2 separate regions of the Homo sapiens genome follow, and region 1 is linked to region 2. Evidence: fine-mapped expression QTL. A gene starts in region 2. The other region holds a variant in brackets. All regions are shown on one strand. Distances are from middle to middle.

Region 1 (16,815 bases), 430 kb after region 2:
TGACTTTTCACATATGACCTTCTACATATAGTAAGTTGTTGAGTCTTGAACACACCTGCATGCTCTCTTTACATTCTCTATAGCTTTTATTACAACCTTTACATCCCCACCCAGGCTTTCACCTTTAATTCCCAGTTAATGTTTTTATTATTATTATTATTATTATTATTATTATTTCACAACTTAGCTAATGTAATAGCCTCCTGATGGTTTTCTCTCTTTCTGATTCTTTCATCCTTCGTGGACCAACTTGGTTAACGTTCTTACAAAGCCACTTGATCACGGAGTTAGACTCTCAGAGTTTATGGGCTAAAGAGTCAATCTATCATAATCATTATTCAGTGCAACAACAGAGCATCAGCCCTGCTCAGAAACATTCAGTTCTTCCACATTCCTGCCACACACAGCGCCTTCTCTGTAGGCTGGAGTGTTAGTAAGTCTTTTGTTATATTAATTCTACTTTTCTATTCATATCTCTCCCCATTTATTCTCCAAAACTAGTGAACTAAATGCTCAAGCCACCTTCTACATCTTCTTCACCTATTCTCATGCCACTTCTTTTCCTAAACGTGTGCTTCTCACAATATTATCTATCAGAATTTTATTTCCTCCTCAAAGTGGTGGAACCATTCACCAGGAGAGAACTAGGTTTGAGGCTCTGTAGAGTGTAAGATACCAATCCCTGTAATTGTTTATTTCATGTGTATCTTTCAGGGTCAATCTTGCATTGTTGTTTTAGTATACGCAGCATCCCTATCATCTAGCACACACTACGCAGCACCTAACTACATACTTGCACATGGCAGACACCCATAAAATATTGATTTAAAATGAGCTCACAGAAATATTAACCATCCATTAGCTCACTTGCAAAGGCAAGTTACATCAGTGTTATGATGATTCACAAATAGTAAAAGAAGCACAAAAAACAAATTGTACACCTGTATCTTCCATTTTTGTGCAAGATTAAAAGATCAAATTCTAGGAAATGATTTCAAATAATTAAAGTTGATAATCTGTTTATAACATCTCCAGGGTTTATAATCACTGACAGTTTTTATTTAAAAAGTTATCTTAGCTGTCACACTTGTTGTAAATCCCTGGAGCTGAAGTTGTATGGTGAATAGAGTATCTGGCTCCATTCTTCTGCTTTAGGCCACATACATTTCCATGTTTTCTGAAATGTATTTCCTAACTAGCTCTTTCCCACTGTTACTGTGAGGGCACATCTTGGCTTTTTAGTGACATCTTGTCTGTCTCCCTGGGTGTATGCCTCATGGACTATAATGAGTGAAGCAACTAGGGCAAGTAAAGAAAGCTCTGGTCTAAGAGCAAAAAATCCTGGCTATTGTCCTGGCTTTGCCACTATTGATTTATATAACTGCATCAAGTCACTTAACTTCTTTGATCTTCAGTCTTCTCATGTGTGACTGAGGAGTACTCTCAACTTCAAAGGAAGCCCAAGAAGTGGGATTCATATGGCTATAGATGACTTTATTCCATGCTTCTTCATATAACTTCTTCCTGGGGCCCCCAGCAATGGGTCTCCCTAATGATATGTCTTCCATATGCCCAGAGTACCTCCTTCTGTGAGAGAGGAGAGGGAAAAGTCTTCATGCTGGCAGTACTCTGGATAATGGGAACTTGGGGTGTCTCTTTGTTGCCTCCTGGATAAGGAAGAATTATGATGGGAGGCTCTCAGAGCCAGCACCTGCTGCCAGCAGTGACAGTGGGCCATCCCACTCCTCTCTGCTTGCTTGGTCTTAACCACATAATTTTTAAAAATTTCATCGGAGACAGCACACGGTGGGAATAAAAGTCTAACCTTGGAATCAGATTGCTTGCTGTCCTGACTGTCAAGTGTTAGCTGTAATGGTTGGCAAACTACTTAGTCTTTATGTGCCTTAGTTGTTTCATCTGGTGAATTTAAGATGATATTAATAGTACCTAATTTCAAGGATTGAGTGAATAAATGTACAATGTTTAAAACAGTGCATGGTAGATAGAAAGTACACCATGTCATTTAGCTGTTATCATGAAACTATCAGTAGCAGGAGTAGCAGTAAGAGGAAGATAAAGAGAAGGATTAGGAGAAGGAGTAAAGGTTCAACAGCTTTCCTTCCCAGCAGAACACAGCCCCCAGTGCTCTGAATGGCACTCAAAACCCACACCACCTTGTCCTTGATATGCTCCAGTCTCCTTCCTCCATGTCCTCCAGCCAAGTAGCCTGACTGCTCTTCTAGAACCCACCGTACATTTCCTGTTTTCTTTGCTGTTGTTTTTCTCAGGCAGAATGTTCTACCTTTCCTTCTCTACATATCAAAATTGTATCCATATTCCAACTTAAAGCTAAATGGCATCTTTGTAAAGCCTTTCCAAGTCATCCAGTCATATTTAAGCTCTCTTTCCCATGTTTGTCCACCCTTTAATCTTCTCATGTGGTACTGCTTTCCATTCTCTTTCATATTGGAGTTAGTGGTTTCAATTTTAGGATCCCCAGCTATATGGTAATTTCCATGAGGGCATAACCCTCCAGGGCTTATATTTGCCCTCTCTATCTCCTGGGTTAAACTGCCCATCAGCACAAGGCACTCAGTGGCCAGGAAAGCTGGTGCCACACATCCTTCTCCATGCACATCTTCCTTCCTTAGACAGTTCCTGCTTCCATGCTATACATCTGTGGGCCAAGAGAAATCAACAGAGAGCAATAACTATAGCCATCTTCATCGCTTTGAAAAAAACTAATAACCAAGGAGAAGGAGAGAAATTTGCTGATACTACATTGTGGTTCTTTGATTGGGACAAAAATATAACCCCTCTACCTGTTATTACCCTCCAAAAGGTCCATAATGTACCAGCCTTAACATTAAGCAACACTTATATTAGAAGTCAAACATAAAGATGATAAGTGTAATTGCACAGTGATTCCAAGTTTGAGCAATGGAAGAGAGACAAGTAGAAAGCAGAAGGTGAGACATTGCAGGAAATGGAACGGATATTGAAGCCTGAGAATGAATCCAGGAGTCTACAGATAAAGTCTATCCTTAAAACCTAGGCTATTTAACATATTCTTCATGACAGACTCTAAATACAGATATTATTTCTGTCAATTGAAAGAATTTTGTATTTTATATCAAAAACTGAAAGAAAGAAATTCAGCCAAGCTTTAATATTCATACTTTTCTCTGGGGAAGACATACTGTCATATTGAAAGGTTTTAAGTATTTTGCATTTTTTGCATCTGATTTCATCTCCCTTCATTATTTAATATTCAAAGTGTTTCATTCTTCAATTATAAATTGCTCCTGTTTAGTTTCTTGACCACATCTCAATGTTCTTTGTAACCATTTTAATTTTTTAAATACTTGAAATAAAATAGGATTTCTTAGTATTGAATAATGGAAGGTTTTCCCTTCAGCCATACAAATCATTGTTTTATCTTTTTTATTTTTAAAATAATTGTGGTTAAGCAAGTAACTGAGAAACAGGTCTAGATATTGTGTTTGAAAGCAACATACTAGAGTTCTTTAAATGAAATTAAAAGACTAAAAGAATTTTCAAAGGACATTGTCTCCCATATGAGTTACTTATATGCTAAAACCATGTTTTCTTTTAGTTAATGTCAATTATATGATTTCCATGCTCAAAAAGAAGAAATTCAGGATTGAGAGCAATGTCAAGGTTATGCCATGAAGGAAGATCTAATTTGTAAAGGGAGGGAGAGAATTGAACCTTCTCACCTCTTGCTCTTTCATTGCTACAACCTGGAGAAAAAAAAAAAAAAACCTGATTTTTGCCCTTTAGTGTAATGGACAAGGTGGGAATAAAAGTTGGCTTTTCTTTCAGCACCTCTGTGCTTTTCAGAGAGAAATCTTCATGAATAGGGCAGTAGGGACGTCTGAATCTAGAGAACGAAAACCCTTTTCGTAGCCTTTTTATTTTCAGGGAGGGTGAAGGTGGGAGTATTGATTCTACTCAGTATAATCCGTTTGAGACAGTTCTAGTTATGTTTTTATTCTAAAAGCCTAGTAGTCATGGTATAAGAATTATCTTCCTCCAATTCTCAAGCCAATGTTTTTCAATATGTCATCCCTGAGCATTCTGGGCAAACAGGGCCATCTTCTTTAAGCCCATTTTTCTTTGATTTGGAAAAGCTTCTTAGAAGACTATCAGAAGTGAGATACCTGCAAAGATCAAAGGAAATGTGTACTTACAATGTGCTTGGTTACTCTGCTTGTTGGAAGCCTTAGTTTCCATGTTTCAGGCTTGGTTTGGTGGAAAGAATTTAAATTTGTACCTACAGATTTCATTGCATCTACACTATAAGATAGTTGGTATTATTTCAATGAAGAGGCAAGACAGAAGGTTCATTAAGGAGGAGTAGGCTTTTACCTTTTTTTTCTTAACACTCCTGTATGATACGACATGAGTACACACACACACTCCATTCAAAAAACAAAGCATCTGTTCTCTAAGAACCTGCCCTCTAAATAGGTAACTGATCACATGAGGAAGGCACAAGAACATATACTGCAACATACAAACTAATTTCCTATTTAAATAAGAATAATAATAACAACAAACCCTTATATACCATTTACCACTCAGTAGGAACTGTTTAAAGCACTTTACATGCATGTATGTATTCATTCCCCATAACAACCTTACGTAGTAAGTACTATTGGAATGTGAGTTAGGCTGAGTAGAAGGAACATGTACTCTATCTTTCTCCCAACCATAGTGCCAAGACCAAGTGAGCTCTTTGAAATTTAAGATCACAACTCTTCTTTACAAGAGATTGCTTTATTCCAGCAAAGGTGATGAACAACAGTGGCTTACAGTTTACAATGCCAGAATGTCAGTTGGTAAATTGTGCTATATAGATTTTAATTAATACATTGTCATATATTTAATTAATTTAGTTTTAATCCCCTACACCATGTTTGCATGGAGTAAGCATGCATATAGTGAATGAATGAATGAAAACTTAGTTCTGTTGGAAGAAAAGAGATTAGGAAGAGAGGACTGTCCAGGAGTCAACTCAACACAGTAAACGTTTAGTGTAGATAAGGAAGAGAGGATTGTCCAGGAATGAATTCAATAAGCATTTAATGCAGACCAAGCTGCATGTGGGGTGTCAAAGCACAGAAGGATGAGTCAGGCAGCACTTACTGAACAATGTCTTGGAGGCAGAAGTGGGAAATGAGCCCTGACATCCAGAACTCTGGAGAACACATGTGTCAGGATATGAGGAAAGGATGAGACAGAACAAGGAAAGGCCTGAGAAATTTCAGAAGAATTAACTGCATATGGTGGCATGCACCTACCGTTGGGTGTCATCTTTGATGAAATCTTAAAAATTAAGATTTAATTATGGTAATGAGTTAAACCGAAGTAGAGATGGGTTCTGAGATTTTGGTTAGAACTGTTGTCTTGCTATAGCTTTCATGTTTCTTTCTATACCCTCTGTGTTTCTAAAGAACTATGAAGTGAAGGCAAAGATCTACTCTTTTCTATTTCTATGAAAACTGTACTTCTTTTGTGGGGTTGATGGTACATAACCATGTCTAACTATGTACCACTGACGTGAGTTTCAATATGTGGTTCTCTTCACAAACAAGCTTCAGTTTTGTATGGTCATTCTCAAGACTCTACTGACATTTGCTCCATAGGACCACAGACATCAGAGTCCTTACAATGTTAGTCAAAAGTAATCTCTCTCTGTTTCTCTCTCTGTGTCTCTGTCTATCTCTGTCTCTTTATTTCTCTCTCTGCCACACACACACACACACACACACACACACACATGCACGCCTGTGCTCACACAAGTTATATAATCCTGTCCCAGGTCCAAATACTATTTCTAACTGCCTCATTGATTTTTATTATTTCAACTAAGCTATTTACAGGTATCCTAAGCACTTTATAATATTAAATACCACAAAATATACTGATATCATATAATCTAATTGAGGAGAAAAATATATATGTTAAGTTTCAAATGCATAATGAATATAGCATTTTATACTAATGTATGTTTCTGCTTTTAAGGAACTTTCTTATATGTTACCTACTTTGATCTTCAAGCAAAGGTTGATGGGAAGTTAAGGTTGATGGGAAAATTATCAATATCCCCATTTTAGGGATGAGGGGCTGATGCAGGGAGTTAATAACCAGCACATGATTACATAGTTAGTATGTGATATGGTTAGGAACCAAAGCCTTCATAACATCTTCTGAAATATGATCCACTGTTTCACAATTGCCCCATTTGTCCTTTGAATAGGACCAGGGAGAGACAAATGCTGACATTATAATAAAGAGATTCTGGGTCACAGGACTTGGAACCACACCGTTCTATTGGGAGAGGAAAGCAGAGTGGGGAATCTGAAAGTGAATGAGGCCTGAGGCCAAACCAGAGAATGGCTGAGTGGGAATGGGGCCATTGCAGATTGAACAATGCTGAGTGGACATGGGAAAGGTACCAGCTGGAAATGCAGAAGGCAAAATGGGTAGCTATTCCGGCCAAATAGGTACGTGATTGAAGCAGGCTGAATCAGTAATTGAAAGATAGGACTTTCTTCCAGGAAAAGATTTCACATCTCTGTCCTACCAATAATAAGACCCAAGAGGGGCCACATATTAATCAGATGACTAAGTACATGTATAGCTATCTAAAGCTTGGGCAAGCCAGGTTTAAGAAAGAGGAGAAATTCTCCCTAAACTGATTCAACACAAAGCCTATCAAAATGCCAACAGAAATGAAGAAGTAAATCCCACATTTTATATAGGATGCAAAGGATCCAGAATAGATAAAACAATTTTTTAAAAGAACAATAAAGTTAGAGGACTTTCACTTCCCAATTTCAAAACTTACTCTAAACTACAGTATTTAAAACAGTACAGTGCTGGCACAAGAGTAGACATATAAATCGACAGAGAAGAATAGAAGTTCAGAAATAAGCCCTTATCTCTGTGGTCAACTGGTTTTTTGCAAAAGTGCCAAAGGGATTCATTGAGGGAATAAATCATCTCTTCTGCAAATACTGCTAGGATAATTAGGTATTCACAAATGAAAAGATTAAAGTAGATCCTTACCTCACACCATGCACAAAAAGAGTACCCCAAAGGGGATCATAGACCTAAATATGGTGGATAAATTTACAAAATTTTTTAGAAGAAAATCTTTATGACTTTGAGTTAAGCAACATGTTCCTGATATGACACCACAAACATAAGCCATAAAAGAAATAAAATGATAAACTGGACTTCATCTCATACTTTTAGATTGTATTTGACAGTTCAGTAGGATCCAACAAAGGAGAAGTGTACGTTCAGTCAGCTTGCTGCTTGTCCTCTGCTCTGCTCTGGGAAAAAAACAAAAAACAAAAAAACAAAAACCCAAAACACAGTAATAGTAATTGTAGTAGTTTCCTGTAGCTGCTGTAACAAGTTACTGTGAAACAGAGGACTGAAATGTCACAAATTTATACCTTACAGTTTTAGAGATCAGAAGTCCAAAATCCATTTCACTGGGCTAATGCCAAGGTGTCAGCAGGGCTGGTTCCTTCAAGAGGCACTAGAGGACAATCTATTTTCTTTCCTGTTTCAGCTTCTGGAGACCACCTACATTGCTTGTTCAGGGCCTTTTCCTTCTTCAAAGGAGGGAGCATCACAGCACCTTGCAATTCTCTGTCTCTGATGTCTGCTGGCTTTATCACATTGCTTTCTCTCCTGCTTCCCTTTCTGACCCTTCTGCCTTCCTATAATAAGGAACCCACCTGAGTAATCCAGGGTAATCATGCCATCTCAAGATACTTATTTTAATCACATCTGCACTGTTCCTTTTGAGATGTAATATATTTCACAGGTTCCAGGGATTAGAACGTGGACATATATACATATATTTTTTGGGGGGATGTCATTATTCAGCCTATTTCATTCATTAACAGTATCACCAAAAATATTAATTCTGAAATTACCCAGTGTATCAATTCTTTTAGATGATACAATAAGATAAATGTAATAACATTTTGATATATATAATTTAATCTTAATAAATTGTCTCTTTTGAAAGAAATGTGTGTGTGTGTGACTATGTTGCTGTGTGAAGGAGACTGTCAGATTTGAGAGCTGATTCTGCACTTTTAGTTTGATACTAAGAAACTAAAAATACCACTAAATGCAAATTACAGATATAGGGATCATGGTGTGAATGGACTATCACATTTCTAGTCCTTTTGAGGAAAGGCTACACTTTTGGGTAATTGTAGGACACCAGCTGGCAGAATATTTAGAACGACATTATTTCTTTATTTTTTTAATTTTCTTAAACATCTGGTGCCTTCTAGATTTTTATGTCAGAGAATTTTAATTTTTTCTTGAGTTCTTCAAATAATTACTCCTGTCATACATTCACAGCTTCAACTTGATTTCCTTCCTAAAATTTAAGATTATTTTAAATCCTTGTGTTAAAGTTTGTGAATCTCTGATATAATAATTTAAGGATGCACTGATTACATTTCCCCTAGGTTAACAATTTAATAGTGTCCTACTGAACAGAATAGGATCTACTTAGGAAAAGTGACGTGAGTGATTTTAGAAGTTTGAAGTTTTTAACATGTCTCCTGCCATTCCATCCTATACCTAGGGGTAATTATTATTCCCCAAGGAGAAATAAATTCATCTATTCACTTTTATTTATATCCTGCTTTGTTAAAAAGCTTTATGAAATTTGTTTTGTTTTGTTTTCATTCGAAAATATGTGTCTAGGGCAATTACATTTGTTATAAAAATCTCAATGACACTTTTAAAGTTTCTCCTTGAAACCTTCCAGCTCAGAAGTGAAAAAAGCTTCCAGTAGTCTTTAGAGCCACATTTTGAACTCAGGTGTCTATAAACCATCTCAAATAGTGGATTGGAGTTGGCACATCAATGATAGCTAATATATTGAGTGCTCTCCTGGACACCAGCCTGGTACAGTGTGGACTCCCTTCACTACCCCTGAAATCCGTGTATGTCCAGCGGGGTTCTAGCACACTCAGTGCCAAGGGATAGTGGGTGCAGTGCTCCCAGTGGGTTACGCCTGCTCAGCTGGTGCTGGGAAGTTGATATCCACTCTGTGGTTGGGGGATCCCATGTGGCTAGAGTCTAAACTTCAGCTCGACGTGAAGTACTTTGCAGGCATTATCTTCGTTAATCTCATAACTTTCTTATGAATAGGCATCATAGCTATTCACATTTTACAGGCAAGGATGCTGAGATAGATCTGAAAATAATTTCTCTAGTCTCTGGAATGAATTCAAGAAATTCTCATTCACTATTTTGGCTCTACTTTTCAATATTGCTTAAAAACATGGATGTGGGGTCTGTCTGAATTTCAAACGTGAGTTGAGCACTTAATAGCCCAGTAGCCTTGAGCAAGTTACTTAACTGCTCTATGCCTCAGTTTCCCCATTTGTAAAATAAAGATAGAAACAGTGCTTTTCTCAAAGGATTGTCACAAGATTGCCCGAGACAGGACATGTAGATTACTTGAAACAATGCCTGACACATTGTAAATATTAACTACATCTCATTTTTATGTTTTTTAACTCATTCTTTGTATTATATTTTGTATGTGATTTTTTTTTGCAGTTAGAAAGTAAGTTCCCTGAAGAAAGGATTCTGCCTTATTCATCCTGAATGTCTTGGAG[C/T]ACCTAGCACAGAGCAGTCCCTCAATATTTATTTTGTTTGTGATTTATTTTTTCATTCACATTATGAAACACAGTTTCTGTCCACATTAAATTTATTACCATCAGAAAAGGTCCAAACTTGTCTTCATACAGCAGGGCAACAAAATTAAATAATGTGGTACCTGCTAGACTGAATAGGAACGCTGTGCTGTGTATTGATGGATGGTCTGAACAGATTTCATGGGAAGAGAGGACTATTTATCTGCTGACATGCTTTTATTGGCTCCTGCCATTGTTGGTGACACTTCTCTTGCATAATAAACTCTCACTAATTATAGGCAAATAACATTTTTTTCTTAGCCTGTTTCATTAATTTATGTGGAACTCCTTTTTTCAAAATCTGTCCTAAGCAAAAGAAAATAAGATTTTGGGAAGACAGCAAAGTAATTAAAGCCTGTTGAAATAGCTTGATGCTAGAGATAGAATACTTTGAAAATATTCAGAGATACAGATTGCCACATCTGAGTGGTATTCATCCAAGGAAGCTATGCAATTTACTAATTAGTTTATCAAGTCACTGGCAGTTGTTTTCTAAGGTCAACAGAAAATTAGAAAATTGTTTTGAGCATTTGAAAGGAACCAGATCTAGTTCTAATATATACTCCCCCCAAAAAAGTTGATCCAGGCAATTGGTTCAGTACAGGAGGGCTTTTGGAACATTTTGTTTGCTTTGTACACTGGAATGAGAACAAAATGAGGTAATTCATTTAATGGTGCTTTGAAAAATGTTATTGCAGACTTCATTGTTAGTGTATGTAAAGCACTATTATTACTAGAAGAAATCAGCCCATAAACCCTAACAATGATAAAACTGATATTAGGGACATGTTATTTAATTCATCAGGATTAACTAAACAATTTATAATAATTTCTTATCACCTGTGATTCTATATTGTGCCTATAATAACAGCACTGGTTACCATTTGTTGAGTACTTACTATGCACTGGATCCTTTACATTTCACACCTCATTTATTACTCACACTATTTTTGAGAATTATAATTTCCATTTTACAGGTGAAGAGCTATAGGTTAAGAGAAATTAAGAGGTTTGCTCAAGATCACACAGCGCAGAAAAGTCCTGGGTCTCTTAGACCTTCAAACCCATGTCTAACTGCTCCAGGTCCCTGCTCTTAACTTCAAACCACACCATCTCTTGCTCTTCACTTTAGGCTCCACAGAGACCCCTACTTCTGTGGACTGCCCATGCTGATCCTTGGCCCTCTATATTCCTTGTGCTCTCTTCTTACTTTTAGTACTACACAGTATAATTGTTTATAAAAATCAAAGTGATCTGAAGTATTAGACTTTTTAAAATCCCTAATAAGGCATCATAATATGTGTTCTTCAAAACTCAATAATACAGGTGTTGGGAAACTCAAAGGTAAAATGGAGACCAAAAGTGCTTTACCGTCACAGAAACTAATCCTCAGTGGTGGACGGAAAAGCAATATGTGACACATTAACTGTGACACTTATAGGCCACCTCCCTGTTCTCTGAAAAAGAAACATTCCATTCCGTATTAGTTCATTCTCACATTGCTATAAAGAAATAGCTAAGACTGGATAATTTATATACCAAAAAAAGGTTACATTGGCTCATGTTCTACAGGCTTTACAGGAAGCATGGCAACTTCTGCTTCTGGGAAGGCCTCAGGAAACTTACAATCATGGGGGAAGGCGAAGGAGAGGCAGGCCTATCAAATGGCAAAAGTGGAAGCAGGCCAGAGGAGGGGCAAGAGAGAGAGAGGGAAGGTACTATACACTTTTAAAAAACTAAATCTCGGCCAGGCGCAGTGGCTCACGCTTGTAATCCCAGCACTTTGGGAGGCCAAGATGGGCAGATCACCAGGTCAGGAGATTGAGACCATCCTGGCTAACACGGTGAAACCCCAGTGAGCCGAGATCGCGCCACTGCACTCCAGCCTGGGCGACAGAGCGAGACTCCGCCTCAAAAAAATAAAATAAATAAATAAATAAATAAATAAAATAAAATAAAAACTAAAAAACTAAATCTTGCGAGCACTCACTCACTATTGCGAGGATAGTTCCATGGGGGAAATCTACCCCCTTGATCCAATCATTTCCCACCAGGCCCCACCTCCAACACTGGGGATTACATTTCAACATGAGATTTGGGTGGGGATACTCTTTCTTCTCAAAAGAAATCATTAAGTATGGTCATATTTGTTATTTTTCATAAAACATGGATATCTCATTTTAGTACTTAACAGACTCTTAAAAGATCACAAATAGCCTTAAGTTTAAAAACGAGGCTCAAAAGATTTGTACCAAGTACAAGGTCATAAAGATGCCACATAGATGTGTTCATATGCACCTCCATCAAGCAAGCACAGTTACATTATGACTTTAATTCATTCACATATTTCTGCATTCACTAGTTCCATAAATATTTACCAAGTCCTGGCTAAGTGTCATGCACTGGGCAAAGTCCTGGAGAGTCACCGTCTTACTCCTTAAATGCTTAGCACCTGGGGAGTGGATACCAACATGAAATTAGACAATATCAAATCTGGGTAATAAGTGATAAGCAGGGAAGTATAGGGTACCTGGAGAGTAAACTGAAGGGCCATGTTACCCATCTAGAGAAGGTGATGTCAAAGCTAGGCCTAAAGAATGAGTGGAAGTAGCCAGGAAGTGACAATAGCAAATACATGTGTCTCAATACCCAGTGATGGAAACTCTGGCTCAGAGAAGAGACAGGAATCATTCCAGCCTTCTGACCCTGCGAGATGTGTAGAAAGGATTTCACGTCTGCTGAGAATATAGACAGGAGTAAAGAGGAATCTTTTGAAAGTGATACCAGGAGTTATATCATTCATTTCGAGAATTAGCGAGAAATCCAGGTGAGGAAAGCTTAAGGGATTTAGGCCCACGTTTCCATCAGACGAGTAGCTTGGGTGAGATGCAGATGTTTTGCATTTGCAAATTTTTCTCAAAAGAAGACACACAAATGGCCAAAAGGTATAAGAAAAAAATGCTCAGCATCACGAATCATCAGAGAAATGCAAATTCACAGCCGCCGAGGTACGGCATCCTAGGGTTGGTGGATGAAGTTAGTCTCATCAAGTCTAATTTCTCAGTATTCGCAGCGCTCAAATGTGAGAGTGAGACTGTCGCTATGGGATGCATAAGTGATCTTCACCGGTAGCTAGTCTCTCATCCCTGGTACATTTTGCCATAGTGAATGCACTGGTTATGTGCACATTTGTTTCCTCCTTGGATGCATTCTTTTCTCACCAGGGGCTGATTCTGACCATCTGTAGCATCTGAACTCCTTTCTCTCTGGCTTCCAAATTATTTCAATGAAAGAAAAATACTGCCAGAAGATCAGAAGTTGGGAGGAGAAAAGGTTTTGAGTATCTCCCCTAGCCTCTTACCCAGCTTTAGCACATGTGTCTCTTTACGAGCAGCATCTGCCGGCAAACCCTCCCCCGTGGCTCTGGCTCCCACTGGGCTACAGGAACACTATTTCTTCCCTCTACTCCATCAGCCTCAGGACTGGTAATGGGTTTCTGGAGTTGTTCATCACTGGTGACTCAACATCTGCTGTTTGTCCTTTACCCCTGCTTATACTTCTGTAACTATTCCTTCATTAAAATCTCTATTTTCTGCCAGAATCCTGACTGATACAGTGACTCAACAGTGTTAACTCTGCTTCCTATTTTATTTTGAAGATGAGGGAACATGTGGTTCTGGGACAAAATGCCAAATGGCTTCTGAAGTTTTAAAGCAACACAATGCAGTCTGACCAAAACTTTGATCTTCTAGAAGAGAAATAGACTAAACCATTATTGTCAGGTGCCATAATAGATGTAGTTAACCTTTATAACATCACCATGATGCATAATGCACCCATTTTATAGATTATAGTATTTTTAAAAATTAAGAAACATGCTTAGTATCATGCACTTAAAAAATGACAGAGATAGGGTTTTAAACTGGGTCTACCTGACTCCAATGTCTATGGTTTTTTACATGAGCTGCTCCCACATAATTCACAAACTTATTCTTCCAATTTGAAATCTTGCATTTTGGTTCCACTTTACATAATTATCTACAACTGGATGTTTCATTGTCACCTCAAGAGTGAAATCTCTCTACCTCCTATTCTCTCTGTCTCTTTCACTCTTTTCTGCTGCCCCAATGTCCCAACTTAACAGTGTTTTCAGAGTCTTGTTTGCTTTTTCCACAATGTGAGAAGCTCAGAGATTTCTGTTTGTTGTCACATCAGTTTGTTGTCAAGACCCCAAAATGTATCCCAACAAACTGAGTGGTGCCTTCGGCTGTGGCTCCTGCCCAAAATGAAGCAAACATCCCTTTTCCTATTTCTTTCTTTTTTTTTTTTTGAGACGTAGTCTCACTCTGTCGCTCAGGCTGGAGTGCAGTGGCGCGATCTCGGCTCACTGCAAGCTCCGCCTCCTGTGTTCACCCCATTCTCCTGCCTCAGCCTCCCGAATAGCTGGGACTACAGGTGCCCGCCACGACTCCCGGCTAATTTTTTGTATTTTTAGTAGAGACGGGGTTTCACCATGTTAGCCAGGATGGTCTCGATCTCCTGACCTCGTGATCCACCCGCCTCAGCCTCCCAAAGTGCTGGGATTACAGGCGTGAGCCACCGTGCCCGGCCCCCTTTTCCTATTTCTTTGTACGTTTTCCCTCTATATACTTAGTTCTCATCTAAAAATGCCAAGATTTTAAGAAGATCCTTACCCACCTCGTTTCTCTTCCTTCTCACTTTACACATTTCCAACCATTAATAATTCTTCCCCCTTTTCTATCCGGCCTCCTTTCCCATCACTAAACTCCTCATATACAACTAATCAGAAAACGTAGGGAGAGAAAATACCTGCAAACCACACATCTGATAAGGGATTAATATCTAAAGTATGTTGTATAAGGATTTCAATTCAATAGTAAGAAAACAACTGATTTTTTTTAAATGAGCAAAGGACTTGAATAGACATCAAAAGAAGATATACCAATGGCCAATAGGTATATGAAAAAATGCTCAACATCATAAATCATTGTAGAAATGCAAATTACAACCACAATGAGCTATTACATTACACCAGTTAAAATGGCTATTATCAGACAAAAGTATTAGGGTTGGTGAAGATTTGGAGAAAAAGGAACCCTTGTACATTGTAAGTGAGAATGTATGTTAGTATAGTCATACTAATAAATAAAACTGCATGAGGTTTTCTCAAAAAATTAAAAATGAAACTACTATAATTCAGCAATACTACTACTTTTTATATATCCAAAGAAAATGAAATCTATATGCTGGCAAAATACATGTACTCCCATGTTCATTGCAGCATTATTCACAATAGCCAAGTTAAAGAATAAATCTAGTGTCCAAGAGATGAATAAAGAAAATATGATATACTTTATATACAGAATGGAATACTATTCATCCTTTAAAAAGAAGAAAATGCAATCAATTACAACAACATAAATTAACCTAGAGGACATTAAGATAAGCGAAATAAGCCAGGCACAGACTGACAAATATCACATGGTCTGACTTATATATGGAATAAAAAAAACTGAATTCACAGAAGCAAAGAGTAGAATAGTAGTTACCAGAGGCTGGGGGTAGGGAAATTAGGTATAAGTTGACAAAAGGCACAACGTTTCAGTTAGACAGTAGAAATAAGCTTAAAAGATCTACCTTACGGTGGCTATAGATGATAATAATATACTGTATACTTGAAAATTGCTGAAAGAGATTTTCAGTTTTCTCACAACAAAATAACTGTGAAGTGATGCATATGTTAAATAGATTGATTTAACCTTTCCAAAATGTATACATATATCAAAACATCATGTTATACACCATAAATATACACAAGCTTTAGTCTTCAGTTTTAAATGATAAACAAATTCTATATAATACAAAGAATATGTTTATAAAATCTAGAGATATGCCATACAAAGAGACTGGGAGACTCAATAGTGCTAAGATATCAGTTCTCCTCAAATTGGTCTATAGATTCAACAGCATTCCAATCAAAATTGAAACACTGATCTCAAAATTCATATGCAATGCAAATGGCTAGAATAGCCAAAACAATTTTGAGAAAGAACAACAGAGTTGGAAGACTTATTACATTTGATTTGAAGACTCATTGAAAAGATGCAGAAATCCAGGAACTATGGTATTAGCATAAATATAACTATATAGTGATCGATGGAACAGAGTAGACAGCCCTAAAATAGACACAAAAATGCTATTTGGAACAGTACCATGGCATTTCAATATTGAAAGGGTAATCTTTTCAATAAGTGGTCTTGGGAGAACTGCCTATTCACATAGACACAGATAAACTTTGATGTCTACCTCATATCTATGATGTATATGAAAATTAACTCAAGATAGATTATAGACCATAAATATAAATGCTAAAAGCATCAAACATTTTGGAGAAAAAATATAGTAAATATTTTGACAACCTTGGCATAGGAAAGATATCCAGTGACCCAACAGGCATTAAGCTTAAGAGAAACAAATGATATAATGGACTTTCTCAAATTAAAAGTTTTTTGTATTTAAAAATATTGTTACAAAACTGAAAATGCAAACAACTAAGCTGCAAAAGATGTACTTGTATATGACAAAACAACTCATATCCAGAATATATAGACAACTTCTCCAAAGTAATAAATAATATTTGATTTAATAAATAATAAAACAATATTTGAAAGACTTGAATAGACTTTTCTCAAAAGATGATAAAGGTAGTCAATAAGAACATAATCATAAGCTTTATATTATTAATCCTAAGGTAAATACAAATTAAAAACATGAAATATCAGTTTCTATGTGCAAGACTGGCTAACATTTTTTAAAATGACCATATCAAATTTTGGCAAGGATGTAGAACTGGAACTCTCATATTTTGCTGGTTGGAATGTAAATGGTAGAACCATCTTGAAAAATAATTTGGGATAGGAGGTGGCGAGGAAGCAGGACTAACTTGCAACTCCCACTAAGACAGACAGAGCAGCATGTGGAGAACCACATCACGAACTTTCGCTCCAAGAACTACAGTAGG
Region 2 (16,815 bases):
ACTTAAAATACTATTTAAAAAGGAGCCAGGATGAAGAGATTTGGAACCAAGTTCTACATAACCTCTCAAAAACATGTAATTTCTACTTAAAGACTTCAAGACTTAGGGAAAGTGGAAACTTCTCTATCATTTAATAAAGCTAGAAAAAGAAAACTTGTAAGAATCATAAACCAACCAACTTTGTCATACAAACTCAATATTCCAGGAATGTAAGACAGTATTACATTTAGAAATTTACCAAGAGAGTGAACATATCAATAGCTTGAAGAGAAAATATCAATTGAGTCTAAAAAAAGCTTTAGTTACTAGTAGAAGCAAACAAGTTAGATCATATTTTAAAATTCCAGCTAGACTAAGGATCTAAATTAAAAGAAACCACACACAAAGCAAACAAAAAACTAAACCCAAAGCAAAATAATCAAAACAGAAACACTAGAAGAAAACTCAAGAGAATATTTGTGCTGAGTCTCTGTAGGTCCTTCATTAGATCTGCCTTTTTCCTTTTTACATTTTCCGCTTGCCCCCTCCTCAGGGCACACACCTCAGACTTCTAGTATAGATTCTATGTAACTTTTTTTTATTCTTTTGTTTCCTTGTCTTCTCCTACCTTACTGTGAGAGATCTTTGAATGCATATCTTTTTCATCTTGGTCTATACAGTGCCAAACACATAGTAGATGCACATTACAAGACTGGTCAAATGTGGGGGCAGTGGCTCATGACTGTAATCCCAGCACTTTGGGAGGCCAAGGTAGGGGGATCACCTGAGGTCGGGAGTTCGAGACTAGCCTGACCAACATGGAGAAACCTTGTCTCTACTAAAAATGCAAAATTAGCCGGGCGTGGTGGCACATGCCTGTAATCCCAGCTACTCAGGAGGCTGAGGCAGGAGAATAGCTTGAATGCGGGAGGCGGAGGTTGCGGTGAGCCAAGATAGCACCATTGCACTCCAGCCTGGGCAACAAGAGCGAAACTTCATCTCAAAAAGACTGGCCAAGTGGATGGATGAATGATCCCTGCCTGGCACCACCACAATCATTCCAGCCTGCCTGCCTCCTGTGGTGATAGTCTGCCTCTGGCTCTTTCTGGCTATCTTTTGTGCAGTGGAAAGAGCATGGGCTTTGGACTCAGATTGACCCATATTGACTCCTGATTATAAGTGATATCATCCTGTGCAACTGAGTTCTCTGAAGCTGATTTTCTTTAAGGGGCTTTGTATACTACTGGGTCCGTACTCAGTGCTCAGAAACTGTTACCTTACTACTGGTGTTATCATGAAGCCTGAATGAGATGGGGGAGTCAGTGTGGCTGAGGAAAAGATGGTTGACCTTCCCAGCATTTGTCTCACCAATGGCACAGTATATTGGGGTAAAACTATGGACAGTGTATCAGGGTAAAAATAAATAGCTTCATTTGCTCCCTCTGCATTAATCTTGATTCTCCTACTTATCACGCTGACCACCCTGAAAACCTGTCTCAGTGGTCTTCAACTCTGACTGCCCCTTAGAATCACCTGGCCTCACCCTAGGCAATTAAATCAGAATGTTCCCAGGGGCATTTTATGTGTAATTGGGATTGAGTGGTTACTGGCCCTTCACTTTCTTGCTCTTAGTAGAATGAGTCCAACTTGCACAGTCCCAGAAACTACAAGCATTTTCTAGGAGCAAAAACTGTTTCCTAAGGAAGGTACAGAAAGAACAGGGCATGGTGCTGGAAGTTTAGAGTCCTAGTCCTGCTGCAAGTTGGAGACATGATCCAGTAAGCCACAATACCTCTGTATTCTGGTTTCCTCATTTATCAAATAAGCACCATAGAATCTTCTATCTCAAACGGTAATGGGAAATTTAAAATAGGAAGTAGGTAAGACTTTTTAAACATTTGAAAGTGACACAAGTGTGATTTGTTAGTGTTTCCATCAGATGTTCCCATCAGAATTCAATAAAATCCTTGTTGTGCTACTTACTGGCTGTGGGGCTTTGCACAGCTCATTTTGCTTTTTGAATCCCAGTTTTTCCTCATCTATAAGATGGAGCTACTTACTCTTCAAATTGCATAATAGTTCCCATTGCTAGCAGCAAAGAAAACAATGGGAACTAAAATACACAAGATATAGTATTATTGTGTTGGCTCTTATTATTGGTACTATTATTCCAATGCTGTGGATAAGCTCACTCAAGCCCTTGATTTCAAGCGGTGGAATCTCATAGTCTCTCATATTAGCGGATGCTGGCACTGGCGTGGCCATAAACAGGTGCAACACTCCTGCCTGCTAAGCTTTTGGATTTTAAAATGAATGTCAGAGAATCTTTGGTTACCAACCAAGCTGCTGAGGTTGACAGGTACAATTCACTTCACTGCCTGAGACCCGCCCCCTTAGCTTCCATTACCTGGGCTTTTCTGACTATTAGGTGTGTGACAGAAGATCAATACTGGCGAGAGATGAATATATGTAATCAACCTAACAGAAGCAAGTTGAAATCCTTTGGTGTGTGGTATCATAAAAGGAGGAAGGTCAATAGGGACACTGGGTCGGACTGAAAAGCAGCCTTGCCCCAAAGCAAATCCTGGCACTTTCCTCTGGCCCACCTTTTCCCTCCAAGCTACAGCACATGGTACCTTTCTCTAGAGCCCAGAGGCTTTATGTTCTCTAGCAAAGTGGTCTGCATCCTTACGTTGATCATAAGTTCAGTGATTATAAAAGTTGAGGTCTTTGGGAAACCCAAGAATTAGAGTCGTGGACTTGAAAGTAAGAAATAGGGAAAACAGCACAGTTATTTCTGACTTTTTGGCTCTACTGTTTATAGTTTTGCCTGTGCAAAGCAATACAAATTCATGTTGTCAGCCAGTGACATAAACAGATTTTTCTTTCCTGAAGCGAATCTGATAATTATGATGTTGTAACATATCTTGCACCACCCAAAACAGTAGATTGAGGATGTCAGGTTTCAGTACAACAAAATGGAACAAGTCTTTTCAGAAAGCACGAACTGTCATTTCAAATGAGACTCTGAAATATGTTGCCACTTACCTACTGATATGGTCCAAACAGCAATGATTTTCAGAAATGCCTTAGTTCTGGAGTTGAAGCGGCTGTGGTGGATGGGATTCTGGATGGCGACGTAGCGGTCCAGCGAGATGGCGCAGAGGTGCATGATGGAGGCCGTGGAGAAGAGCACGTCCAGGTAAATCCAGACTGCACAAAGCTTGCTCGGCAGAGGCCACCGGTACCCTATGAGGCAGAAGGTTGGTGTCAGTGAGCAACCCTGTGCCTCCTGGAGCACATGTATCCCTATCCTATGACAATTTCCAGCTCTGGGACAGGCACAGGTGGTGGCAAAGGGCAACACAATATATTTTTAGTATTTGAAAAAAGCCCACTGGCAACTGTACTTAACTATGATAAGCTAGCACTGGCTGATGAATGCAGGGTTTGAAAATTTCTAGTGTCTGGAGTTATGTGAGTGTGGCACGGTAAGCTTGGATGGTCTCTATTTGGGGGTTCTCTTTCTTCCCCCTTACGCCTGGCAAAACATTTCTTTTGTTAATGGCTTATGTCAAAATTTGTGTTTTGGCTCCTCTTCTGGAGCACCTCTCACACTGTACTGTCAGGATTTAGTCACATATTTCTCTGGATTGTATTTCCCTAAGGTTAGTCTCACCTCTTAGTCATTATTATAACCATCCAGTCCCATACAGTGATGGCAATAAATTGCATTAGTGCAAATGACTAAATGACTAAAAATTCAGATTGTGAATATGTCTGTTTGTAAAAATGAAAAATAATGATCTAATAATGCTTTGGGTGCCAAACTCAAATTTGGGGTATGTGTAGGGAGAGCTGAAGACAAGGGTGAAGAAAAATAAAGAAAGGTGTCCTTGCTCTGAGCTTTGTTTTAGGGAGGCATTTCTCAAACTTTAGTGAGCATCAGACTCTGCCACACCTCTTAAAACACACACTGCTGGACCTCCGTCCAGAGGTTCTGATGCAGTTAGTAGGGAGCAGGCTGTAGAATTTGCATCTGAATTAGCAAGCTCCCGGGTGATGCTGATGCTGCTGGTCCAGGGACCACGCTTTGTGAATAGCTGCTTTAGGGTAGTGGCTCTCACCCCTGGCTGCACATCAGTATCAGCTGGAGAGCTTTAGAGAAGGTCCTGATGCCCATGCCAAACCCAGCCCAATTAAATCATGTTTGGAGGGTGGGCTGAGGTGGACATCAAATGTCAAAGCGTTTGCAAAGCTTTTTCCAAGCTCCCCAGACAATTCCAATGTAAGAGATACTGCAGGTCACCTGCTATATGAGGAAGGTTAGAGTGTGCTTTATGGACATAAACAAAGTGTCCTGGTTTTGTGTTTTGGAGGGGGATTAAGCAGTTATGTAAACCTTAATTAGTTTTGATCACAGTATAAGCAGCGGAGTTAGATCTGCCTGCATGTAAGAAGGAAAATTTTAAAGTCCACTTTTCTTATTACAGACCCACAAAGCCGAACAAACTCCAACGCAAACGTACACTCTCTACCAAAATGCCACAAGGGATATTTAGACAAGTAAAGGGCGTAGGTACAAGCCTAATTTACAGCCATTCACATGTATTATTTGCAAAGAGCTTGAGCCGAAAGGAAAGCCTTTTCCTTTGCAGCGCCTTATGGGGGAAGCCACGCTCTGTCTGTTCGGAACAGATGTCGGCCCTCGGAGGGGTTTCTCTGCCAGGAGGCGGCCCAGGCCTCAGTCCGTGTTTCTGATGCGGGATAAGGAGGGGGCATTTCCTTGTGGGAGAAGCCCCATGCCCCACGCCCCGTGGGCTGGGGGAGGCTGGAGGAGCAGCCTAGGGAGGGGCGGGGCTCCGGAGGGAACGGGCTGCTCTCAGAGCGGCGGCCGCCAGGGGGCGCCCTTGCTCCCCAAGCGGGTGACGCCGGGGGTCACCCCACCCTCCAGCCTCTGTTTTGGGTCCCGCTCTGTCACTCCTCCTACCCCCACTGGAGTTTGCCCCCTAGGGGAGGGGGTTTGGGAAGCGAGAATCTTCCCCGGGATGCCGGGGAAAGGGCAGGCAAATTAAATGAAATCATTCCGGTGTGGCATTTAAATGGTCAAGTGAAGGCTGGACTTGGAATGAGTGTTACTAGCTTTGTGCAAACTGGCGCCTGCTCGCCCTTGCGTACCGCCTTCCTCCTTCACATTCTCTAGGGCTGGGTTGATGTTTTTTAATCTTAGCCCCTAAGACTTGACCAGAAAATTTCCCTTTAAAGATAGCTATCATAACCTGTCTCTAAGCTCTGAGTGACTGCTGCTTGTGCCTGTGTCAGCAGTCACAATAGTCTCTCCTTTAAGGAGGTATCTGGCTGTATTACTCATAATTTGGAAAGAATATCACATTCTGGTCCCTTGCTGAGAGGTCTGACTGTTTCAAACTCTGTTGAGAAGAAAGCAAGATTAATCCCTTCCCATTTGTTTCCCACCCTCCTCCAAACCAGACTGGAGGAGTTTATGCATATGCATTTTCAAAGAGTTGAGGATATAATTCAAAGGCACATTTCCAAATTAGCTTCTCTGGGCAGGGAACAATTAAAACTGGAGTAATTCATTTATTCTAATTGAGGTTCTGCATATTTTAACATAAAACCTATTGCACCACTAATGTTCTCTCTGCAAATGTTCCAAAGTAATTGGGAAGGCTTTATCACTCCATTAAAAGTGCTGAAAACTGTGTGACAAAGATTAAAACTGTTCTGTCCTGAAGGCTGGAATATTGGTTGGGAATATAAAGAAGCAAAAATCAAGTAGATTCAGAATGATGGGTAAGTTATTGGTTTATGACTGTATGGGGTAATTTATAAAAATTTCTACATTAAATGTACATGTTTTGAAGCACAAAACTCTCCAATGATCATTTTTACACAGGATGTACGCGTTTTGAAGCACAAAACTCTCCAGTGATCACAGGTCATAGACTGTCTGATTTTTATGTGAAATCCCATTTTAAGAGTAAAATATAAGTAACATAGTAGGCTCTAGTCTATAAACAAAGACTTCTATTTATAGTTTGTTTGCCCCCTGAGCCCCATCTCATCTGCTGGTGGCATGCACATGCTCTTTATTACCAGTGCGAATATAGCTGGGAAACTAATGCCACTCACCATACAGGATGGTTAACATGGACACGGGCATGACAAGGAAACCCAGCAGCATATCAGCTATGGCAAGTGACATCAGGAAATAGTTGGTGGCATTCTGCAGCTTTTTCTCTAGGGACACTGCCATGATGACGAGTATGTTTCCAGCAATAGTTAGAATAATCACTACGGCTGTCAGTAAAGCAGACCAGTTTTTTTCCTGGAGATGAAGTAAGGAGAGACACGACGGTGAGAGGCACCCTTCACAGGAAAGGTTGGTTCGATTTTCAGAGTCGACTGTCCAGTTAAATGCATCAGAAGTGTTAGCTTCTCCGGAGTTAAAGTCATTACTGTAGAGCCTGGTGTCATCATTTAATTGCATTAGGGAGTTCGTAGTTGAGCTCAAAGAAGTATTTTCTTCACAAAGAATATCCATGTCTAAGCCAGAACTTGTAGCAGATGAGGTGTAGAAGGACTAACAGGTTATAGTTTCTGCTCACCATTCACCTTGATGTACCCACACTCTGTAACACTGAGGCTGGTGTACATGCTGTTCTCCCGGGGCTGGATTTTTGTCTTCCATTATTACAATGATAGTTAAAGAACTGAACTGTGGTGGCTGTAAGTTTTCTTCATTCACAATTTTAGGAGAGTCCACTGTTTGGTTTTATTATTTTCTCACCAAACCGAGGACAAAAAAGCAGAATGAACTTTTAGCATAGAGGTTGCAGGGTTTTTTTTGAGCGCTCGGGAAGATAAATGTCCTGGACAAAGAAGAAAAGTTTTATAACTACTGGGACTCTTGTTTAACTATATCTCATTTTGTTGGTTATGCCGATGGTACTAGTTTAGCAACAGTATTATTAAAATAGCATGCAATCAGAAACAGTGGGGATGTACACATTCTACATTAAGAAAGTCAATTAAAAATACATCCAGTGTTAATCCCATAGTAATTGGATGTACTTTGGGTTACAGTTCTCAGCCATTCTTAAGCTGAATTGCCACAGCTGCTGTCAGGAATTTCAGCTCCTATAATGTTGCTTAGCTAATAAAAGGAAAACAAAAAAGTCTTAAGTAAAGATTAGCAGACAACTTTCCTCCCTGGAAATTCTCATTGAAATGATTACATGTTGGCCAAGCATGATTTCAAACCGGAAAGAAAATTACACAGCAATAAAATATAGCGGCATGAGAACTTACATTTGTCTTCAGGGTCCACACATGAGATACATTTGTTATTCTGTGACTCGCTGCATCTCTCACAGTAATTAAACTGGTGTAGAGTCCCCTCTTCTTGATCTTCCACCAGCATAATATGATAGTAATTTGGTTTCTGTTTTGCTGACTTCAAAAACTGCATGCAAGAGCTGAGCCAGCTCCCGCACTGCTAGGATCCTGTTGGCTTCCTCTGGCACGGCTCGGCTGGGTTCCTCCCTCCCTGTGCGGCTCGCCTCAGCAGGCACACATTTAGAAATCATTCACGAGCCCCTCAAAGTCGCACAAAAGAACTGCATGGGAAAGTAGGAAGAGCTGTCTGCACCAAGGGACTCCTGGTTTCCACGGGAATGGAGTAGCTCTCTGACTGTCTCGTTCATTTCATCAGACCTCCCTCTATGTGTATGTCATAAGCTGCAAGGTAGCAACAGCCAGGAGGGCGGACCAAACAGGCTTTTTCTTCTCCCTCTTTTTGCTACATATTAATATTGGGAAGTTTTCCTTTGCTTTTGAGAGAAACTGGAGAAATGGCCTTTTGTGCAGATTCCCATTAAGGTAGGTAAGTGGCACTGTGGTAATTTTTTAGGCTGAAGGGTGAAGAGAGAACATAAATAAGGCTAGAAAACAGTATGTCCTCGGAGTGCTGTGAGTGTCCGGCACTTCCATCCAAAGCCAACAGTGTTTGTGTCCAGAGTGGAATTACTGACATTGGCCACATAGGCTCAGGGTGGCTAGGCACGTCTGTGGTGATAACTCTGATAAACTATTAGCACTATTTTTATTTAATAGATACACCATTGAACTGGCTTATTTTCTTCAGCAGAAATATGCCACCCAGATATTATTCAAAACCTCACATGTGGTAGGAAATAAGTTGGTTTCGCAGTACCAATTTTTTTCCCCCACCAGTAATGACAACTTGCCTTACTTGTAAAGAAAGCCCTTTCCCAAGTAGGTTTCTAAAGGAGGCAGTTCGATCTCTCTCTTTTTGCAGGCATGAAAATATTTTCCTCAATAGTTGGGTTTTGCTACAGTTCTATCACCTTCTGTTCTTCACATTCTCCCTGGACAAATTCAACCACTCTCATGCCTTCAATATGTTTGTGGCCAAGTCTGTACCTTCATAGCTGATTATTTCTCTCAGTTCCAGACCTAAATCTCTAGCTGCCCATTGGCTCCTTCCATGGTAGCCTGGGAGACCTTGACCTCAGCATCTTCCCTCACTCCGCATCCCCCTGCCCGGCTCTCAGTGCTTGTTCCTACCCATTGGCTTGCATGATGGAATCACCACCTCTTCAGACAGCTGCTGTTATCCGCGACTCTTCCTTCATTCTCGCTGCCAGATCCCACTTCGTCTCCGGTGCTACCTCTGTATGCGTGTTTCTCACATGTCCTCTCCTGCAGCCTGCAGCTGGCACCCTGTGGTCGAGATCTAGCCACCTATTTCCTGGGTGGGTGCCTTAGTGCCCCCCTCACTGCCATGCCTGCCACCCTCCTACCCCTCCACGTTAAATATGCACGCTGGCGAGCAGGCAGCGGAGAACACAGACCTTAGAGTTCCTTGGTTTTGGATCCTAGCTCTATCACTCATAAACAGTAGAACCTCGCCTCATCTAGTTGCTCCCTTTAAAGCTCAGTCTTCTCACTTGTAAAATGGGATAATACCTTCCTCATAAGATTGTAGTGAAGCTAAACTGAGATAATGTGTGTAAGTATTTGGCCCATGTCTGGCTTATAGGAGGTTCTCAAGTAATGTCAGCCACTTTCATTCCTATTGATATTCTTACTGATATTAATGACACAATTGGCATCACTCCCATGCCTACACTCCTGCAGTCCCTTCCTTGTGGGGCACATAACACTTTTCTTCATCTACCTGTACCCTGCTTGCCCCACTTTGCAGGCCTGGACTCTGGTTACTCTCCCAGTCAGCCTGTATGCAGACTGAACTTACATGTTTCTGACCATTTTTATGTCTCTGTACTTGTACTTCCCTGTGCCCGGAGTGCTCTTACCATTCCTTTTTTGTGTGTGTCCATCTGGCAAATTCGTGCTTAGTTCCAGAGCAGCTCTGGATCCCAGGCCTACCACTCACCACATCTGTAAGCGTGATTAAGCTACCTAATCTCTGTGTTTTAGTCTCCTCATCCGCAAGTAGGGAACATTAATAATAAAAAGACCTCAGGATTGACGTGAAAGCCAAATAAATTTACATATTTGCCTGGCACATTTTAAGCACTCAATAAAGGTTAGTTGCTATTATTCTTACTAAGTTTACTGTTCCTAAGCTTTCTGTAGCCCTCCTTCCCAGTGGAGGCAAAGACTATAGCACCTTCTGCAGCCTTCTATTTTTAACACATCATGTCTCATGTAAGCCTCATAAAGGCAGGAACTGTGTCTATCTTGTTAACAGCTGGGCGCATAGTGCTTAAGTATGTTTGTTGAATGAATGCATGACATCTGTGTAAATGTCTGTCTTCTCTATTAGATGTTGAACTTCATTTCCATACCCTTAATATAGATGTAATCTATATTACATCTATCTTATACTATTATATTATCCACCCAGATGCAATTCATAAACCTCACATGTGGTATCTAAGCATGGTATCTCATAATGGAAGGTCCTCAACAGATGTGTTCTGACTGAATTGTTATTAGCATAAATTAAGATGAATTGATTATTAAAAAGGAGAACCAGGGAGAAACTTAGAACCTCTCATTTTTTCTTGTTACTTTGTTTATTGGGATACCAATTTAATTTTATTAAAGATAGCAGAGGGAAATGTAATATAAAAAATACTCCAGTGTCAGGAAGTTATTCAAAAGTTTTCTGAGGTTAAATTTTATAGATGTTCTTGTTATAGCTCTTAGAGAATTCTGATGATCTCAGTCCATTATTTCTCATGAAGAACAGCTAGGCTTCTAGTCATGCCAAAACTAATCAGTGTTTCTTATTATGTGGTTTACACTGGGAAATATTTTTTTGGCTACCATCTAAGATTATTTCTAGTTTTTATTGCAATTTTATGAATACTTGTTATGGACAAAGCAGTAGGGGCATAATCTAGGCTCCTGATTCTTAAACAGAGCTTCTAGGTTAATAGCATGAGGGTTAGATTAGGTAGGAATAGTTTCTTGCTGGGCAGATGCCCCTGTGAGTTTGGTGAGACGAGTGTGTGTTGGCTGCTGTAGTGCGCACCGTGATGCCTCGCCCAGCTTCTGCTTCAGGGCTGAGACTCGGGCTCCCTGCTGCTGGAAGGATTGGTGGCTGGCTCTCCACTCTTTCTGTGAACACTCCCCTCAGCCAAGGAAGCCAGCTTGCCAGTGGTCATGCCCCTTCTCTGTGGCAGCCAGCATGCAAAGACTGGTCCATTGTGAGGATATAAAGGGCTGGCCCTCTTGCCTGATGGCTGAAGAACTTTGGTTCCAGTGCTTCTATGGGATTCACTGAGGCCTTTGTTGTGTCAAATCCAAGTTAAATATCTCCCCTTGTCCAGTCTGGCTTCTCTTGCTCCCCTGCCGGTGTTGATCTGAGAGCTCGCCCCACACAAATCTCTTGCACACACATCAGTCACAGAGTCAGCTTCCTGGGGAGCTCAACCTATGACCTATCATCTTTAGCTGTGTATTAATGCCTTGAATAACATCTCTGGGTGAGTTGGATGTCTTACACAAAACAGATAAGTGTTGTCTATGTGATGATGAATGATGCTTCCTTGCCATAAGCTTAGAATTCTTCAATATACATCTGGCTTTGCTATCTAATTACTGCCAGAAGGAATTTAAGGTTAACAATACCAGAACTATATTTATTATCTTGGGCAGAATTTCTCTAGTTCTTAATTGGACCATATATAGGAATACATTTTATAACTAGTTCATTTTGGAAGATTCACTAGAAAGTGATTGCTTAAAATTAGATGTTAATATTTTCTCAATGACTTCAGTGGTATTTGTAGCCTTTGTTTGAATTTTTTTCCAGGCTAAAGTTATTGGGTTTCTGAAACTGTAGTGTCTTACATATGTCAATGTATATGAGAAAAAAAGGTTCCTTGACCAATTAAGTCTGGAACATTACTGTATCTTATAGTCTCCTCTTAGAAATATACAGTGCATAATTGCATATTAAAAGCTGTAAGAGATCCTGCAGTAAGGAAATTTGTTTATATTTATTTCATTCCTCTTCATCCAGAACACTCATTGAAAGACACTTTAATTTTGTCTAAATTGAGTTATATTTTAAATTTATTAAAACATAATGCTCTTAAGTATACAATTCACTGAGTTTGACAAATATGTACACCCATGTAACCATCACCCAAATTAAGATATCCACCATTTTCATCATTTTTGAAAGTACTCTCCTATCCTTTTTTGACTTTAACTTAAATGGACACATGTGGCCCTCCTTCCTAGTGGAGGCAAAGACTGTAGCATCTTCTGCAGTCTTCTATGTCACGCTTCTTTCACTCAACAGTGTATCTGTGTGTTCATCCATGTCACTGTGATTAAATGATTATTTAATGGATTGTAGTCTGAGAAACTGAAATGGCCTGGACATTTGGGGTTTCAACATTTATTTTTTTTCTTGTTCAAAGGAACATAGAATAGGTCCCTTTTCTTTGTTACGTTTGTCCTTTTTAAGCTGCTTAATTTTGCAAGACAGTGCCAACCTTAACCTTCACTCAATTGATTATGCCTGATTTTGTTATGAATTGGCAGCATAGAATTCTTTTACTCTATGATATTTAAGAATATGTCTCTAAGATTTCTGCTGCTCAAACATTACTAATGGCCTGAGAATGAGGAAAAAAATATTAACAGAGGGTTTACTGACTGACATTTTATCTATCACTTCCTTTTGGTGCTCTGATACTTAGGTTTGGAACAAGCCAGACCATCGGACCAATGTATATTTAGAAAACAATATCATGAACTGCCTTCTATTATGGCACTGGCTTGTATCTAAAAAAAAAAACTACTTGAAATTAGCTAATGACTGTCATCTATCTTTTTAATTTTCTCACAGTGGCACCGAGTTGAACAATATTCATTAATTTAACAGTTGATAATTGACTGCTGTGTCAAGCACTATTATAGGTGCTGAGTATAACCATGAAGATGAGCATAGTTCCTGCCTTCATTCATTCAAGAAATAGTTGGCAGTAGCATGGATGAGTACAGAGTTTAGGGAAGAGACATCAAATAGCCAATGGCATATTGGTATTTAAGGTATGCTACTAGGTGAAATCATCTAAGAGAGTGAGTGGAGATAAAGAAGGGAAGAGGTCTGAGAACTCAGCCATGGATTACTGCAATAGTTTAGGTCAGAGAGTGTGGAGGAACCTGCCAAGTAGAATGAAAAGGGGCACCCAGTGAGTTAGGAGAGACACAAAGAGAAAGTGTAATCCTAAAGTAAAAGAAAAGAAAGATGGCCAAGAAGAATGAGTATGCAACTGGGTGAAATGCCTTCTGACCAGCTGAGTATAATAAGGACTGAGAAATCACCGTAAAATTTGTCAAAATGGTAGTCTTTGGTGGCCTTGATAAGAACTGTTCCAGTGGAGTAGTTGGAATAACAGCCCAATGGAATGGGTTCAAGAGGGGAGGGGGAGGGAAGCAAGAACATCAGTTTCAGGTGAGAGATGGTGTGGCTTTCACTAGGGTAGTGCTAGTGGGTTTGTGAGAAATGGTCAGATTCTGCGTATGTTTTAAAGGTAGAGCCAACAGAACTTGATGACAGATAATGATAGGATATGGGACGTGAGAGAAAGAAGAGAGCTGCGTCACTCTGAAGGTTTTAGATCTGAGCAACTAGAAGAATGGGGCATCGTCCTTAACAGAAATAGTCAAGGCTTCAGTGGGAGCTTACTTGGGGTGATTATCAGATCAGTCTTGGATATGCTAACTTGAGGTCTGTGTAAGACAAATAACTATGTCTATAAGACACTGAGCATAAGAGTCTGAAATAGAGTACAGAGGTCCAGGATGCAGATATAAATTTGGAAACTGTCAGTATATACGTGGTGTTGAAAGCTGTGAGGTAGAATGTGATTCCCTAAATATCCGAGTAGAGGAAGAAGCAGTTTAAAGACTGAATCTGGAGCTTCTTCAACAGTTAGAGGTAAGGGGGATAAGAAAGACGTGGCAGAGGAGACCGTGGGGTTGGTGAGGAAGGAGGAAAAGTGAAGAATGTGGTGTTCTAGGAGCCAAGATAAGAAAATATTTCGAGGAGGAGAGCGACCGAATGAAATACAGTGAAGCTGCTAAGATTCATATACTTGAAGAGCATTTCATTATGTGGGAAATCGTGCACAAGCTAATGTTAAATAAGAACGAGCTCTATAGTCCATGTTCTCAACTTAAAAAAACCATGGATATGTGGTTCTAAACTAGAAGGAAGTACATTCAAATGTTGACAGTGATATTTCCTGGGTCAAGGAGTTGTGATTTTTTTTTTATTTCAATGCTGATTTCAAATTTTGTAAATATTCTGAAGTATACATGTGTTTATAAACATAAAATAATTATTTCAAAAATATTTAAATTAAGTTCAGGTAAAAGAGGGTCAGAGATGACCTTATCCTTTAACCATGGCTGAGACAGACTGGCTTTAAGGTAAAATTTTTAAACTGCTTGTTTTTGTTAGGTGTGGCAGTTGTATTATTCAGAATTATTATAGACAAATGGCAGACATCCAAGTCAAAAAGGATCAAGGGAGATGTGCAAGTAATTGACAAGTCCAAGGTGGGACTAACTTAAGGCATGGCAGGATCTAGTGGCTAAAAGGACCTTATTAGGGCTATGTTGCTACCTCTAGAATCTGCTTCCCTTTCACTGACCTGATTCTCTTCCTCTATAGGTGACTTCTTTCATGTAACTGGAAAAGGTGGTGGTTGGCAGTTCTGATTTTACATAATTGCAGGCTGTGAAACAGGATTTAACTCTGCAGTAGAGTATTTTTCACTTGCAGACGAGACCCTGGTTAGACCCACGTGCCCATCTCTGAAATGAACATGATAGCTAGGGGAATAGAGTACTCAAATTAGCCAGTCTGGGTCACCCTGCCATCCCTCTGGGCAGGGGATCAGAGCAACATGACTTACCAGCTTCACTGACACTGCAGGAAATGGACCCTTTCCCAAATAAAAATACAGGCCTTTTGTCCAGGCCTGTAAAATAATGACTCTCTATTAGCAGAGGGTACATCCTTATCTATTTTTTGTTGTGTTTTTACTCAGCTACATTGGCTCTGGTGTCTGAGTCATACTTGGTTGTTTCACGAGGCATCACAATTTTTTTGAGGTCACAGGGAGATCATTTTTTACATTTTTACTCTGGAGGTAAATAGCACTTCAGCCAGTCAGTGATCTAAAAGTGTGTTTCCCAAAATATCTAATTTACTACCAGGCATAACCTAGGTTTTGGGAGAAATGAATATATTATCACTTAGATTCTCATTACAGAGCAAGATGATTACCTTTCTTATAAGAAAAATGTAGAACTATTGGAGGAAAAATATTTTTGCTAGTCCCAAAGAATTACCCTCACACATTTTTGCAGGTGCTTATTGGTTGAATCATAAGATATTTGGCCAGGATCCCAAATTTTGTTCTGGCACCAACTGTCAGGTGTCTGTGGCTGAAGGGACATTCGAGGTACATTTACCTCTTATTCTTAACGAGGGCATGTAGTGAACCAGACGGGACCATTTGGGTTGTAAGGGTTCTGTTTTCCTGGTCAGGGCCTGGCTAGCAGCCTGTTAGATCTGTCCTCTGAGCCCATGCCAGTTCCCACTTCATGCTGTGGGGGATGGGGAGAGACTGATGGTTCAGGTACTTCCCACTGGAAAGAGGAGCCTTTTGGACCAATTTTATCAAACCAGCTCTATGAGAAAAGCGGCCTATGGGAGGAAAGAGACACACCTAAAATGAAAATAATGAGAGTTCTCTACTCAGAGGATAGATTTTTAACCTCTTTGCTGCTTTCAGTGATCTGTTAACAATATGGCCTAATGGTGTCCCTGGTCTTGACTCACGTTGATGCTCTCCCTCCTTTGTGATGAGTGGCAGTTTGGGAGAATGGAAGTCTTGAATTTTGACTTCAGGGTAGAATGGGCAGACCAGATTCTTGGTTTCTCTGCATTCCAATGGCTTCAGCAGCCACAGGTCAATCAGTATGAATATGAAATACTGCCTTCTTTGGGAGTTTCCCAGTATATCAGAAAATTCAAGTTCTCACCTTCATGAGGATACTTTTAAGAACCAAATTATTGTTCCTCTGTCCACCTGATATTGATGACTTAGGCACTTAATCCCCTCAGAGCCTTTTACCAATATCTCAGATGGGGTCCTAGAAACCACTGAAATGGATCAGAACATTATCTCAATTTAGTTGAAATTACTCTTCCTGTTCTATTTTCCATCTCAAATTATGCTTGACGGTGTTGTCCAGGATAAGGTTGTACATTGTATTTCAATATGTCTGGTAAGACATGCTCCATAATTTTGGAGTAAAAAAGATAAATATTTGTAAAAATTAATCATTTGGTTTCCTATCTGCCCTTAAAACACGATGTCTAGTATCTCCCTTTTGAAGCCCATTACTATCCCCGCTTCCCCCCAGATTGATGAAGGACTCTGGAGTCTCTGACCAAAGAGGTCAGTCCCACACCAAACCTTATGTGGAGGGGTAACTGATCAGTCCTCCATTGCCATTGCTTCTTGCTGCCACATAGTGTCTCTGTTGCAGCCTTTTCTGCCCTTTTCAAGAAAGTTGATTTGTCATGGAATCACCTTAGCTCCTTGGCATTCTGCAGTGGTTAGGTGGCCAGTACAATTCTTCATTCATACTCACGTGGTGGCCATTGGCCCTAGAGTACAAGACTATGATAGGGTGACTTGGTTCTGGGATCTTCCTGCCAGAACCACAAATACTTAGGCACCAGGAGGTTGTGAATTGTCAGAACAAGAAGGTTGAAGAAGACTGGACACTAAATTTCTAGAATCTCTGGAGGAGAAATATTCATAGAATGAGTTGGCTTTGATGTCCTTGTAGGTCCCTTCCAATCCTAATGTTTGATTCTGAGATCTAAAAAACATTTAACATTGATACTATATTGTAAATTTGATCTTTCTTTATTTCATTTTTAACTATAAAAATGCATAGTGTAAAAAAGTCAAACCATGTTGAAAGAATCTTTCATACTCCTCATATTTTATATCCTTTATTTTCTTTGCATATACAAGTGTTTACATATATGATTATATGTATTTTATATATATATAATACATATGACTTAAAAATGTGTAGATTGGTAATAGAATTCTCATGAATATAACATAATTTATTTAACTGGTCTTTCTTTGAACAGGTTAAATAAATTATTAGGATTGCAAGTGCTAAATTTCAAAGATCCCACCAAATAGCTGTCTAAAATAATATGCTAATTTATATTCCCACCAACAATATATTAGTGTTTTCCTC

Which allele goes with the higher level. Alleles are on the strand shown, and positions count from the first base shown. SD is a standard deviation of normalised expression in the study named.
For the expression in sigmoid colon of the gene that starts at base 7,691 in region 2, allele T in region 1 goes with a higher level than allele C (small effect, 0.32 SD a copy in GTEx).

Evidence for each region. PIP is the estimated chance that this variant, and not a neighbour inherited with it, causes the effect. A credible set is the group of variants that fine-mapping cannot tell apart.
Region 1: its variant is the best candidate, but not a certain one, in a credible set for the expression of HTR2A in sigmoid colon (GTEx, PIP 0.56).

Annotation. Positions count from the first base shown.
Region 1 is chr13:47,321,081-47,337,895 of GRCh38, forward strand. No RefSeq gene overlaps it. Among named protein-coding and RNA genes, the nearest start is that of HTR2A, 430 kb to the left of the region's middle. The variant C/T (reference allele first, on the strand shown) is at 9,696.
Region 2 is chr13:46,889,363-46,906,177 of GRCh38, forward strand. It overlaps HTR2A (5-hydroxytryptamine receptor 2A), which reads right to left and starts at 7,691. Exons shown (of 4, transcript NM_000621.5): 1 at 7,312-7,691; 2 at 6,133-6,872; 3 at 3,028-3,228. The coding sequence starts at 6,544. RefSeq lists a silencer at 4,792-5,001.